Regions from separate parts of the Homo sapiens genome. Here all the other regions are reported to be linked to region 1. The links are microRNA targets in miRTarBase. Many come from high-throughput screens and were not tested one by one. Region 1 holds a microRNA gene; each other region holds the end of a gene's coding sequence.
What was found. The annotated mature microRNA hsa-let-7a-2-3p reads CUGUACAGCCUCCUAGCUUUCC and lies in region 1 at 2,630-2,651, shown strand. An mRNA with a match to its seed (bases 2 to 7 or 8) in the 3' UTR can be bound and repressed. Matches are read on the target gene's strand: a 7mer-m8 pairs with bases 2 to 8, a 7mer-A1 pairs with bases 2 to 7 and ends in A, and an 8mer does both.

Region 2: miRTarBase lists FKBP14 as a target of hsa-let-7a-2-3p. Seed matches in the 3' UTR shown: 7mer-A1 at 1,819-1,825 and 7mer-m8 at 135-141.
Region 3: miRTarBase lists TP53INP1 as a target of hsa-let-7a-2-3p. Seed matches in the 3' UTR shown: 7mer-m8 at 1,181-1,187.

Annotation. Positions count from the first base shown.
Region 1 is chr11:122,144,923-122,149,173 of GRCh38, reverse strand. It overlaps MIRLET7A2 (microRNA let-7a-2), which reads left to right and starts at 2,581; the gene lies at 2,581-2,652. All of the region lies in intron 4 of MIR100HG (mir-100-let-7a-2-mir-125b-1 cluster host gene), which reads left to right.
Region 2 is chr7:30,011,275-30,015,525 of GRCh38, forward strand. It overlaps FKBP14 (FKBP prolyl isomerase 14), which reads right to left. Exons shown (of 4, transcript NM_017946.4): 4 at 1-3,619. The coding sequence ends at 3,461. The region is part of intron 2 of FKBP14-AS1 (FKBP14 antisense RNA 1); the gene reads left to right. Among named protein-coding and RNA genes, the nearest start is that of FKBP14, 13 kb to the right of the region's middle.
Region 3 is chr8:94,927,028-94,931,255 of GRCh38, reverse strand. TP53INP1 (tumor protein p53 inducible nuclear protein 1) reads left to right here. Exons shown (of 4, transcript NM_033285.4): 4 at 528-4,228. The coding sequence ends at 777. It also overlaps a transcript of NDUFAF6 not described here. Among named protein-coding and RNA genes, the nearest start is that of TP53INP1, 20 kb to the left of the region's middle.

The DNA.
Region 1 (4,251 bases):
TAGATTGTCTCTACCTGAAGATATACTACTGTTGTTCACCTATAAATACTACTTCTTGTTTTATTTTTCACTCGTACTTTTCGATAAGAATTTTTATGACATCATTCCATATCATAATTGCATGTTGTTATTACATGCCTACAAATATTTACACTAATTATGTAATGAGCCATAATTGCACTAATACATGATAATGGGCTAAAATCAGTGTAAATAAACAAGGAAATTCACAACCAAAAGAGCAGGGTATTGAAAACCATTAGTATTCTAAGAGCAGCATCTTTATATCTTTGACCCCCAGAATAAGAACGTACATGGAAAAAGATCAATTTTTCCATTTCTGGGTATTTAAAAGCCCTCTGAACTGTATGTTGTGGCTGATTGACTAGCACTCTAGCACATGGATCTTATCCTCTCTTTGTTGTGTCTTCCTTTGTCAACACTTACTGCCCTTCCCCTGCCTTGTGTCCCATTCATAAGGGTTATATATCGTGATTGTGCTTACAGAGTCAGGCACAGTGTCACTGCAAGGTGAATGAAAAAATTCAAATTAAGAGGAAAGAAAATGAATTATATATTCTTTTTTGGTCACAGTAAGTGTTAAATCTTCTACATAAGTGAGCATCTAGTAGCAGAAGACTTGGAAATACATCTTGAGTTTCCATAGGAGATCTGGGATTTAAGGTTAAACCGGCCAGGTTGAATTCAGCCACTCTGATTTTTTGCCCTCTCTGGAATCTTAATAGCAAATCCATCTTACTATGAGTGAAATTCTAACATAAGTGGAAGAACAAAGGATTGGACATAAAAATAAAAATGATCATCCCTTAACTGTAAGTTCATTTATACTCCCATTTATCCATTTATGCATATATTCTTCTTTTCATTTGACAAAGTTTTTTTTTTTTTTTAAATTTCTATATGTGCCATCTACTCGCCATTGCAGATAATACCAGATTGGCAAAGGTGAATTATGGGGTCCCATTTTCACATAGCTTGGGGTCCAGCGAATGAGACAAACAGATAAACTATAATGCAATGATGTGAGAATTAAAGCATAAATGCATATATGAAATTGTGAGATAATCAGAGGAAGAACTCTTTCAAATGAGGCTTGAAGGATGAATGAGAGTTTTTTTTTTTTTTTGATAAAACTAACCTCCCAGTCTTTCTCCCAAACTAGGTAGCCTTGATCTAACAGAGGCAGCCCCCCCGCTCCGCCCCCCAAAAAAAGCAGTTTCACCTCATCAAAGCATAAGGAAATAGGGTTGGAAACATTGGAAAAAAAATCACTTTTCTCCAGGCTAGTGGAATAACATGAAGAAACATCAATGCTATGGCATTTGAATCTGTCTTTTGAACACGATCAGTGCAGTAGAAGTATCAGGAAGATTCTCAGTGTGCTCAGATGTGCCTCCATCTCTATTTGCCTAGGCTGACCTAGCTCCTTTGTAGCACAGCCTTTACTGGGCAAAACCAGAGTCCAGCTAAGCAATGAGGAGAGGTGGCTTCTGATAGACCACAGAGCAGTCCTTGTGGGAAAATATAGACCTGACCAAACTTGAGTTTACATAGAAATGAGAAGTTGCTAAGCTTGTAGGAGCCTATCTCCTGCTCCAGCACCTGCCTGGGACTGAAGATACAAGAAAGATTCAGTTTAAAATTATGAGGTGGGTGTATCACAAGGTCAGGAGTTTGAGACCAGCCTGGCCGACATGGTGAAACCCCGTGTCTACTAAAAATACAAAAATTAGCCGGGCATGGTGACACACTCCTGTAATTCCAGCTACTCAGGAGGCTGAGGCAGAAGAATCACTTGAACCAGGGAGGCAGAAGTTGCAGTGAGCCAAGATCGCAGCACTGCACTCTAGCCTGAGTGACAGAGCAAGACTCTGTCTTGGAAAAAAAAAAAATTACAAGTGCAAACAGGGAAATAGGCACATTTTGTAGGTTGTTGAATAGACTGTTGGGGACAGATTTATGAGAAATGCTGAAACAGTCAACTCTGGAAAAAGGAGCACTTTCTAAATATGAGAATTATGTAAAATACATGATAAATATTGTTGGGTGGATGTTCAATATAGCTTTTGCGGTATTTCTTAATCTGTATTTTGCTCAGAATCATGTTTTCTATGTCTTTTCACTGTGTTTTGGTTTAAGCCATTTCTTCTTATATATCCATCTTTTAGTGATTCCAGTTTTTCAGTTTTACCAGAGGAACATTTATTTTTCTAATCTTTTTTTAATTGCCCAAGTTTAAATATTGTTCTACTATTCTATTTCGTCAACAGATATCAGAAGGCATTAAATTGTTCAGAATCACCATTATGTAACATTACTATAATTTCCATGCACAAATAGTTCAAGAAGGCCAGTCCCAAGTATTTGCTCCCTTCATGTTTTCATGGTAATCTCAAGCCAAGGTTTTTGTGTTATCTCTTCTATCATCAGACTCTTTGATATGTTGTCTCTTATGAATGGCCCAAATAGGTGACAGCACGATGAATCATTATAAGACTAACTTGTAATTTCCCTGCTTAAGAAATGGTAGTTTTCCAGCCATTGTGACTGCATGCTCCCAGGTTGAGGTAGTAGGTTGTATAGTTTAGAATTACATCAAGGGAGATAACTGTACAGCCTCCTAGCTTTCCTTGGGTCTTGCACTAAACAACATGGTGAGAACGATCATGATTCCTCCAGGCCTTTTCTCCCTATGAAAGGTAAGATTGGGTACGATTATTTTATGGTATTTTAGAATTCAAGTTTTGTTTAATCCTTGTACCCATGCTGTATTTTCATATTCTGTTTCCTCGGGTTAGATTTTGTTTTAAGAAAAATGTGAGGCTTTGAGGGATTCAGTATATCAGGTGTCCATTGTCACAAAAATGCTGCATAATAAACACCAAATTGTCACAAAAAATGCAGCATTGTCACAAAAAAATGCTGCATAATAAACACTACAAAGCCTCAGTGGCATACAATAAATGCATATTTAGCTCATGAGTCTGTGTATCTGTGATTTACACAGGTTTTCTGGTCTTGCCTGGGCTCATTTCTTCTGGCTGTCAGCTCTAAGATGGGGTCACTAGATTGATGGGGGCAGCTAATTTCTGTGCTATGTGTCACATCTGACAACAGATTAGTTCTAGCACATTCTTATGGTAAAGGCAGAGGAATAAGAACAAGGACAAGCCAAGTGACTTAAGGATCTTACAAGCTTCTGCCTGCTTTGTATTTGCTAATATCTCATTGGTCAAAGGAAGCCACATGGCCAATCCTGAAGGCAGAGTGGCCACTACTACAAAGTTTCATGGCAAAGGACATGAACTCAGGAAGGCATTACAAATTGGGGCTGTTTTTTTGCAACTGTATTGCACTTTCTTAGATATCATCAAATTAAAAGAATTTTGTACTCTCCACTCAAGGAAGTTTCCAAGATAAAGAGCCATGTTTTGGAATTCACATTTTGGGTTTTAGGCTAAGCTGGTCTTTGAATGCAATTTTATATCCCTCTTATTGAGATATGCTCTAGCCAACCTCTATGAAAACTTCTATGGAAAAATACCAAAAGACTGGAATAGTAATAATGTAGAGATTGATTATCTCAAAGCATAAACTTGGTCATTTCATAGTGATAACCAATGTCATGAACAACAGACATTTTACCTGTCTTAGATGGAAATCCCACAATCTACAAAGAGCATATGAGCAGCCAAACCAGCACTCAAATCCAGATCTGTCAATTAGGAAGGAGTTAGTTGTTCCATGTCTGGATACTTTTCAGTAGAAAATACAGATGGGTAGTCAGAAGGTACATAATGAGGTATTTAGTCCATTTTATTATTTTCTGGTAGTTTAATGTACAAAATATGTCAAAGGAAATGGTTATGCAGTCTGTAGTTATAGTTTCTCTCTCTCTCTCTCTCTCAGCTACCTCAAAGAAAAGATGAAATTCCCTGTGTCAGGATTTTGATTCTATGCTCAAATATTTTTATGGTGAATTACCACCAGTGATTGTCATGTTACTAAGAGGTCAAGAATAACTAGCCCCATGTCATAAAGAAGCACGGCTGAAGGTTCGATGTTACTTTGAAACCACCCTGGTACTCTGCAGCAGAACTAGGAGCAAGACTCAAAGGCTGCTGTGCCGTCTTTATTTCTTAGCTCATTCTTTCATTCTTTAGAAGGGACTATGCCTTGCTTTAGAAGATGCTGTCATTACTTTGTGACATTTATTATGAGTTTAACATT
Region 2 (4,251 bases), not on the chromosome of region 1:
GAGTGATCCACCCACCTTGGCCTCCCATAATGCTGGGATTATAGGCATAAGGCACCATGCCCAACCAGAAGAAAAACATTTTTTATAAATTTTAGTGTCACCTAAGTGTACGGTGTTTATAAAGTCTACAGTAGTGTACAGTAATGTCCTAGGCCTTTACATTCACTCACCACTGACTCATCCAGAGCAACTTCCAGTTCTGTAAGCTCCGTTAGTAAGTGCCCTATACAGGTATACCATATATATATATATACACACACCATATATATATATACTATATATATATATACCATATATATGGTATATATATATATATAGTATATATATATATATATATTTTTTTTTTTAGATGGGGAGTCACTCTGTCACCCAGGCTGGAGTGCAGTGGTATGATCATGGCTCACTGCAGCCTTGACCTTGCCAGGCTCAGGTGATCCTCCAACCTCAGCTTTTGTACTTTTAGCAGAGACGGGGTTTCGCCATGTTGCCCAGGCTGGTCTTGAGCTTCTGGGCTCAAGCAATCCACCTGCTGAGGCAGCCTCCCAAAGTGCTAGGATTACAGGCGTGAACCACTGCACCTGACCAGATTTTTTACAAAATCTTTTATACCATATTGTTATTGTTGTAGTATCTTTTCTGTGTTTAGATGTTTGAATAAACAGACACTTGCCATTGTGTTACAATTGCCTACATGATTCAGAACAGCAACATGCTGTAGCCTAGGAGCAATAGGCTATATACATGTCCTACATGTGTAGCAGGCTACACTATCTAGGTTTGTGTAAGTACACTCTATGATGTTCCCACAACGATGAAATAACCTAATTAGACATTTCTCAGAGTGCATCTCCATCATTAAGTGAGGTATGACTGTACATGTGAAGTCACAGTTCATGTCTGATTATTCCCACTAATAGAAGAGTACAAAGGTACAGTGAAACCAAAAAAAAGAGCAGATAACTTAAAAACCATAACTTGTGCATATGTTTTCATTTTATACTTGTGTCCAAATGTTTAGATGAGAACTGATACAAATTCACAGGTTTTTAAAAATGCTGCCTGAATAATCAAAACTCTTTTTACTTTTCTTGCCCTACTATAGATAGCATCAGTAATGTTTATACAGAGTAGCACCATCGGACAAACTACTTTCCCTTCTCCCATCATAGAGTATAAGGCTGTCTGTATTATGGCTTAAAACATTAGCAATGACTTAATAGTTTTCAACATACAGCTGATTTTGTTGGAGAAAGGTGTTACAGTATAGTCTTGTTAAGAACTTTATGTTTTACTGAGGAAAATGTCAACATATAATCAGTGAAAGTGGTCTACATATGATGTAATAATTGTTCATAATTCTTTTTAAACAACAAATGGGGGTAAATATGAATGAAAGAAGTAAAACACATCTGGAACCTCGCGTTGTTCAGGGTTTTTGAGGCAATTCAGAGCTAACTGCAAGATTATGCTATGAAACTGAAGCCATTTCTATATCATAGTGAGAATTCTAATGTACCAGAAACAGGCAGAAAGCCATCTTCAGAGAATGAAGACTCAAAGATAAACAACGGCACAGCAAACTGAAGAGAGAATTAGACCCCAGGGAAATTTTCACTTTTCATTAGTAGAGGGCAGTAGAAGACACTGAACTTGGGGACTGAATACTGGTTCTGCAGGTTAGTGCTGACCCTGGGCATAACAGTCAATCTTTTTGAATGACAATTTCCTCGTCTATAAATTAGGTACAGTGAGATCCACCAGCTTGTTTTATGACTCAGAGCCATGAAAAGCGAAGATAATAATGCACTTAATATCATTTTGTACACTATAAAGGGCTACTCTTAGAAAATGAAGATTTGATAACTTTAAAAAAAAGAATTAAAGATAAAAGCCAATTTAAAATAAAATTATATATATTTTTTTCTTTTTTAAAATCCAGGATAGGTATTTATTCAATAGTAGCTGCTGTAGGTCTGCTTCTTTTTTTTTTTTTGAGATGGAGTCTTGCTCTGTCACCCAGGCTGGAGTGCAGTGGCACAATCTTGGCTCACTGCAACCTCCGCCTCCCGGGTTCAAGCAAATCTCCTGTCTCAGCCTCCCGAGTAGCTGGGACTACAGGTGTGCACCACCACGCCTGGCTAATTTTTGTATTTTTAGTAGAGACAAGGTTTCACCATGTTGGCCAGGCTGGTCTTGAACTCCTGATCTCAAGTGATCCACCCTCCTTGGCCCCCAAAGTGCTGGGATTACAGGCATGAGCCACCACACCCAGCTAACTTCAGTTTTTGATGAGACAGAAATGGGAAAATGTAGACTGGTTTACTACTTTATCTTATGATACAATGTTATTGTAGTATAATATACTATAGACTACCCATTAAAGAACCAGGAAGGATATTCCGCTAGCCTTAAGAAGTAAATATTGAATATAAATATAACTTTCTACCTCATCTATAACATATTGATACATTTTATTACAAAGAAACTCACACATAAATGATTTGTCCTATTTATCATAATAGGCCACCAATCACTAGGAGCCAAGCTTCATCAGCTTAAGTCCTAGGTAGCATGTCTCAATGCATACATATTTATATGTTATTAACCGTGTTTCTTTTCTTTTTTTCGAGACAGAGTGTCCAGGCTGGAGGTGATCTCGGCTTACCGCAACCTCCGCCTCCGGGTTCAAGTGATTCTGCCGCCTCAGCCTTCCTGGGTAGCTGGGATTACAGGCACGCATCACCACGCCCGGCTACTTTTGTATTTTTAGTAGAGATAGGGTTTCTCCGTGTTGGTCAGGCTGGTCTCGAACTCCCAACCTCAGGTGATCCGCCCGCCTCAGCCTCCCAAAGTGCTGGGATTACAGGCATGAGCCACCATGCCTGGCTATTAACCTTGTTTCTAACTTCAGCATTGCACATCTCCTTAGTAAAGCAGTAGCCATTAACAAGTCAGGTCCAACAACCATTTTCCTCTGGTCCTCAAGCAGAGACTCAGAGCCAGTTACACATAAACTATTTCATTATAACATGAAAATAGCAAGCCTTGGGCTATTGCAAAAGGCTTTTCAAATGTTGACCTCTAACTTGGAGAAAATAGAGGGAAGCAGAAATATAGGGTGCTAATTTGTGCTATAACCTGGTCTCATGTCGTGGTATATTCCCAGTTGCAACATTTTAAATTTATAAGTGAGAAAGTAAAACAAAGCTTCATATCTGTGAAAGTGAAAAATTGTCCAGAAGTCTTCTATTCAAAGACCAATTAGCTTTTTCTTCCCAATAACTTATCAGAAAGAAATGGGTACTTAGAAACCTAAGGGGTTCTTTAAATAGGAGTCAGAAAAAATATATAAAAATAAAAAACAAAGCAAGAAAGAACATTGTATAAAAATAAAATGTTCTTTAAAGATGACTGCCCTCTCTTGAAAGATGAGTGCTATATTAAAAGGGTAGATGTATCTCTATAACTCATCGTGTTTATATGTAAATTCTCTGGCAGATATAAACCCATCTTTGTCTTCATCTTCTTTATCAAAAATATCCTCCACCAAAGCATCATGATGACTTTCATTCACCACCGCACCATGTTTTTCAAACTCCTTCTTTAAATATGCTTTAACCTACAAAATAACAGATCCCATTAATAACTTGGATTCATAAGATACCCACATTGAGCCAATCAATATCACAGACATGGACTGTTATTATATTTAGTTCATTAACTAAATATAATACCTTCTAAACAGCCATTTTATGACATAGTTTTAATGATAATTAAAAAATAATAGAAACTTTTTCCCTTAAAAAAACTGTTGCTAAACTGCTAAAGTGGAGACACAAAATATTGCTCAAAGGCAGGGCCAGGTGTGGTGGCTCATGCCTGTTATCCCAGCACTTTGGGAGGCCCAAGTGGGAAGATTGCTTGAGGTCAGGAGTTGGAGATCAGCCTGGCCGACATAATGAAAGCCCATCTCCACTAAAAATACAAAAAAAAGTTAGCCAGGCATGATGGCATGCGTCTGTAATCCCAGCTATTCAGGAGGCTGAGGCAGTTGAATCGCTTGAACCTGGAAGGCAGAGGTTGCAGTGAATCGAGATTGCGCTGCTGCCCTCCAGCCTGGGCAACAGAGTGAGACTCTGTCAAAAAAATAAAAAATTAAAAAATTAAAAATATATATATATATATAGCTCTCTCTATATATATATTGCTCAAAGGCAGAGATAAAGCTTATGTCATGTATACAATCCTCAT
Region 3 (4,228 bases), not on the chromosome of region 1:
AAATTTCTATTAAATAAAGATTTAAAGCATGTTTCCTGGAACATTTTACTTATAGACAGGAAATGTCTTGTGAAGGTATTGTGAGCACACTGCTTTCTGATCAGTAAAATTTGGGAATTAAAATATTTTCCTTTTAAGATTATGGTGAGAATTAAAATATATATTTGCAAAAGAATTGGCAAATGCAGATATTCAATAAATGTTAGCTCCCCTCCCAGACAAGCTTATATAAATGTGTGTGCTCCGTAAATGAAATTCAAAGTTTAAAGTGTATTTTTAGAAAACAGTCTACTTAGTGAGCCATCTGGGGCTTATATGGCATCTTTCTAGTAACAGTTGGCTCTCCTTTCCACCACTATCAGTCAGTGGGGTCACAGAATAATAAACTTGTCTGTCAGCCATGAAACACAAGCTCTCATTCAGCCATAAACAAATTAGCGTGGCAAATTGAATTGCTAAGTAACTTTTCCAGTTTTGTTAATAACATACTCTGTTATTTAATACATCCCCACTTTTTTCTGTTTCAGAGTGGAAGCTCAAAATGAAATGGGGCAGCATATTCATTGTTATGTTGCAGCTCTTGCTGCTCATACAACTTTTCTGGAACAACCCAAGAGCTTTCGCCCTTCCCAGTGGATAAAAGAACACAGTGAAAGACAGCCTCTTAACAGAAATAGCCTTCGTCGCCAAAATCTTACCAGGGATTGCCACCCTCGGCAAGTCAAGCACAATGGCTGGGTTGTTCATCAGCCCTGCCCGCGTCAGTACAATTACTAATAGTTTCAAGTTTTGTTGGTTGGTTTCTCTTGGTTTGTGCTTACATGTATGGATGTGTGTATATGTACAGTGAAAATGTTGTCTCTTTACAACCAATTGATAACCAATCACATAGTTTTATCAGTGTATTTAGACACTATCTTGAAAATCAGATTTATATGCTGTGTATCACATAATGCCTTGCCTTTAACATTTACTTTTTTTGTACACTTTTTCAGATTATTTCTGGAAACATATCAATATAATTACAGTGTTTGGGGGTGTCTTTAAATATATTAGGTTATACATTAGTCAGCATTTTAAAGACATTTCTTCCCAAGTACGAGAATAGGCATCTTTCATTTTCATTTTATTTTGTATTACTTAATCTTTTAAGCAAGCAAAAATTTATTCTCAGGGTCAGCTGTACACTTTATTGACCAGTACTTGATAATCTCTCTGTATATGATGAATACATTTTTACACACTAACATTAGCATTAACAGGTGATAGTTGCCATGGATATAATGGAATTATGGCTGGACTTTCTTTTGAAAGAAAACTTGATGTATTCTGTGTGTATGGTTTTTCCCCAGATTAGTCATACAGTTCATTTGGAATTCAGGTACATTAAGCTTTAGTGAAGAGTGCATGCAGTAATTCCAATGTGACTGCATGACGTGGTACAGACATTACAGGTGTTGTAGACAGAGGCACTTGTCTCGTGCAGAGGGATTAAATTAGACCTGTGAGATTATATTTGGAAAAATTCATGTCTGTAACTAACCCATTAGTGCAGTATTTAATTTGTTACTATTCCTTCCCGCCAATTCTGTCCACTCCTCACCTCGCATCAGCTATAAATTTGGAAGTACTTGTCCAGGCACTCAAGTGACTTCATATTTCTCTCTGCCCATGGGAAAAGAGATAGGCTTTATATTTCCACAGAGTGAAAAATCCTCTGTCATGGAGCCTGTCCTGCCAAGTGGCAAGAGTGTGGGGACTGTCTGGTGATGATGTCTTTCATGGCATCTGAGTGAAGAGTGACAGGTTGGCTCAACTTTTTTCTTTTTTTTTTTTTAATTGCCTTGTATTGTAAGTATTCTTCCCTGCAGTCCAAGTGACTTTTCATTTTTTGTTTTAACTTCAGGCAAAATCTTTAACCACTCTGGCCTCTGTTTCCCCCACCAACGGGGAGCAGTGACATTTACCTCCCTCACAGAGTCACTGTGAGGATTCTATACTGATTTGAAGTGGAGCTGTTCAGAACTGAACCTTGTAGGAAATTCCAAGGGCCTTTCTACTGAATCTGGTGATGGGGTGGGGCCGTGGCACTTTCTCTGCCACAGCTGTTCTTCACAGTGTTGGTGCTAATGAGGCCAGGGTGCAGGGTTCGATTCACACGTAGGCCAGTTAACTTAGAGAAAATCTATTTCCTTACCTCTAGCCAGTCACTTCCTTTTTCCGCAGTTGTGATGGGTTTTGCTGAGCCATCCACTCTGACTGATTTCCTCTGAAGTAAACATATTTACAATCCAAAGCAATTCTACTGACAGAAGTGTTGCCTTCATAATCAAACAGCTTGTTTTTCCATCTCCTCTGCAACCCTAATTAAATGAGTACAGGTCTACAAAATGTTTTCAAGGAGAAAAGCAGCATATCCTTAAGTGAAGTATTATATTTTTCAATAACCCTGTAGTGGCTTGATGCAGGGAACCCTGGGGGACTTTCAGCGAAGAGCTGTGCTCTTTTCTGACTAGATTAGAGCGTTTGGAGTGGAAGACGTCAAATGTGTAGTGAGATGGAGGTTTTACATTGTTCTTCTACTGGCTGTGATGAAGTGCCAGAATGTCTCTTTAGAACAAGAGTTAGATTCCCCCTTTCTCCTTATTGCCCCTTCCGTTTTGACTTCCCCTTTATTTATTTGTTGTCTAATTAGGGGCCAAGTCTGTAAAGTTTTGTCAAAGTGAGTTAGAAGTTGTTTTCTCTTACTATTTGTGTTTACCAGAGTTGGGAGATAAGATAGTTTCCATGAAGGTGTGTATGTTTTATACGATGTTTGTTATAGGGCCATGCATTGGTAACTTGAAAATAGACCAGCTTAATGTCTTCAGGATGTAAAACTCTGAATACACGGCGTCTCTTTTTCATACATTGCATGTAAGTTGTTAGTACCTCACAAGCTACAGAAGTTCAGCCATGAGATTTTGTTTGGCAACATGAACAGATTTGTGTATAACTGCAATGGCCTTTTTTTCCAGATTTCCTTATTGACTTTTTGTTTGCCTTACCTGGGGCTAGTTTTTTATGCTTTGTACCTAGAAAACAAAAAATTACATTCGTTGGGCTTTTTTTCAAGGTTGGGATTACCACACCACCTGGAATATCATACTGTGGTTTCTGCCTAAAATTGGCACATGTAAGTATTGAAGAAAATGGTTATATAATTCAGTTGAAACTCTTGGTTATTAGATGTTAGGCATCTCCTGTATGTAAGACACAAGGCCAACCACAACACAGAACGATGTTGACCTGTTAAGTATTCTCTGAAACATGGCCAAAATGCATTTTATGAGCTTTTTTTTTTGCTATTGTAAATATTAGTGGTTTACAATGCGCTTTAGACATATTTCTTTAAAATGCAAGCAGTGAGAAATAAGACCTCTCTGAATTAGTAGCTCTAAACTGTTAACATAGAATGTTACTTGGAAAAAGTCTGGAATATGTGGTGTACACAAGCAGTGCTTCGTGAATGAGTTTCTTAGCTTTTATAGTGCGCCATGTTTCTCAAAGTTTGTTTTTGTTGACAAAACATTTTATAATATATATCTTATGTTTATTTTTTTTCTCAACTAATTGTGTACTGCACTGTAAGGTGAAAATTAGCCATCCATTATTTATCTTCTGTGGCAATGCATTTATATGGTTGATTGGGTGGGGAATTTTTTGCAGAAAGATGCAAAGTGATTGGGTTTTCGACTTCCTATCGCAGGGAGCTTTTAAGAAATATTAATTTCCTATACATTTTTCCAATCCCCATGCAAACTGTTCCTGTTTACATACCTTCTCTGTTGTATCAGTACTTTGAGTGAGAAGACAGTTTATTTAAAACTTGAGCAGGCTGTTCAGCATTGTTTCTGCTTCTGAAATCTGTATAGTACACTGGTTTGTAATCATTATGTCTTCATTGAAATCCTTGCTACTTCTCTTCCTCCTCAATGAAATACATTATATATTATCTTTATGTACTCTTAAGAAAAACGAGCAAGGAAGAGTATCTTCATTATTCTCATTTTCTCTGAGTTGGAAACAAAAACATGAAGGACTCCAACTAGAAGACAGATATTTACATTTAAATAGATTAGTGGGAAAACTTTAAGAGTTTCCACATATTAGTTTTCATTTTTTGAGTCAAGAGACTGCTCCTTGTACTGGGAGACACTAGTAGTATATGTTTGTAATGTTACTTTAA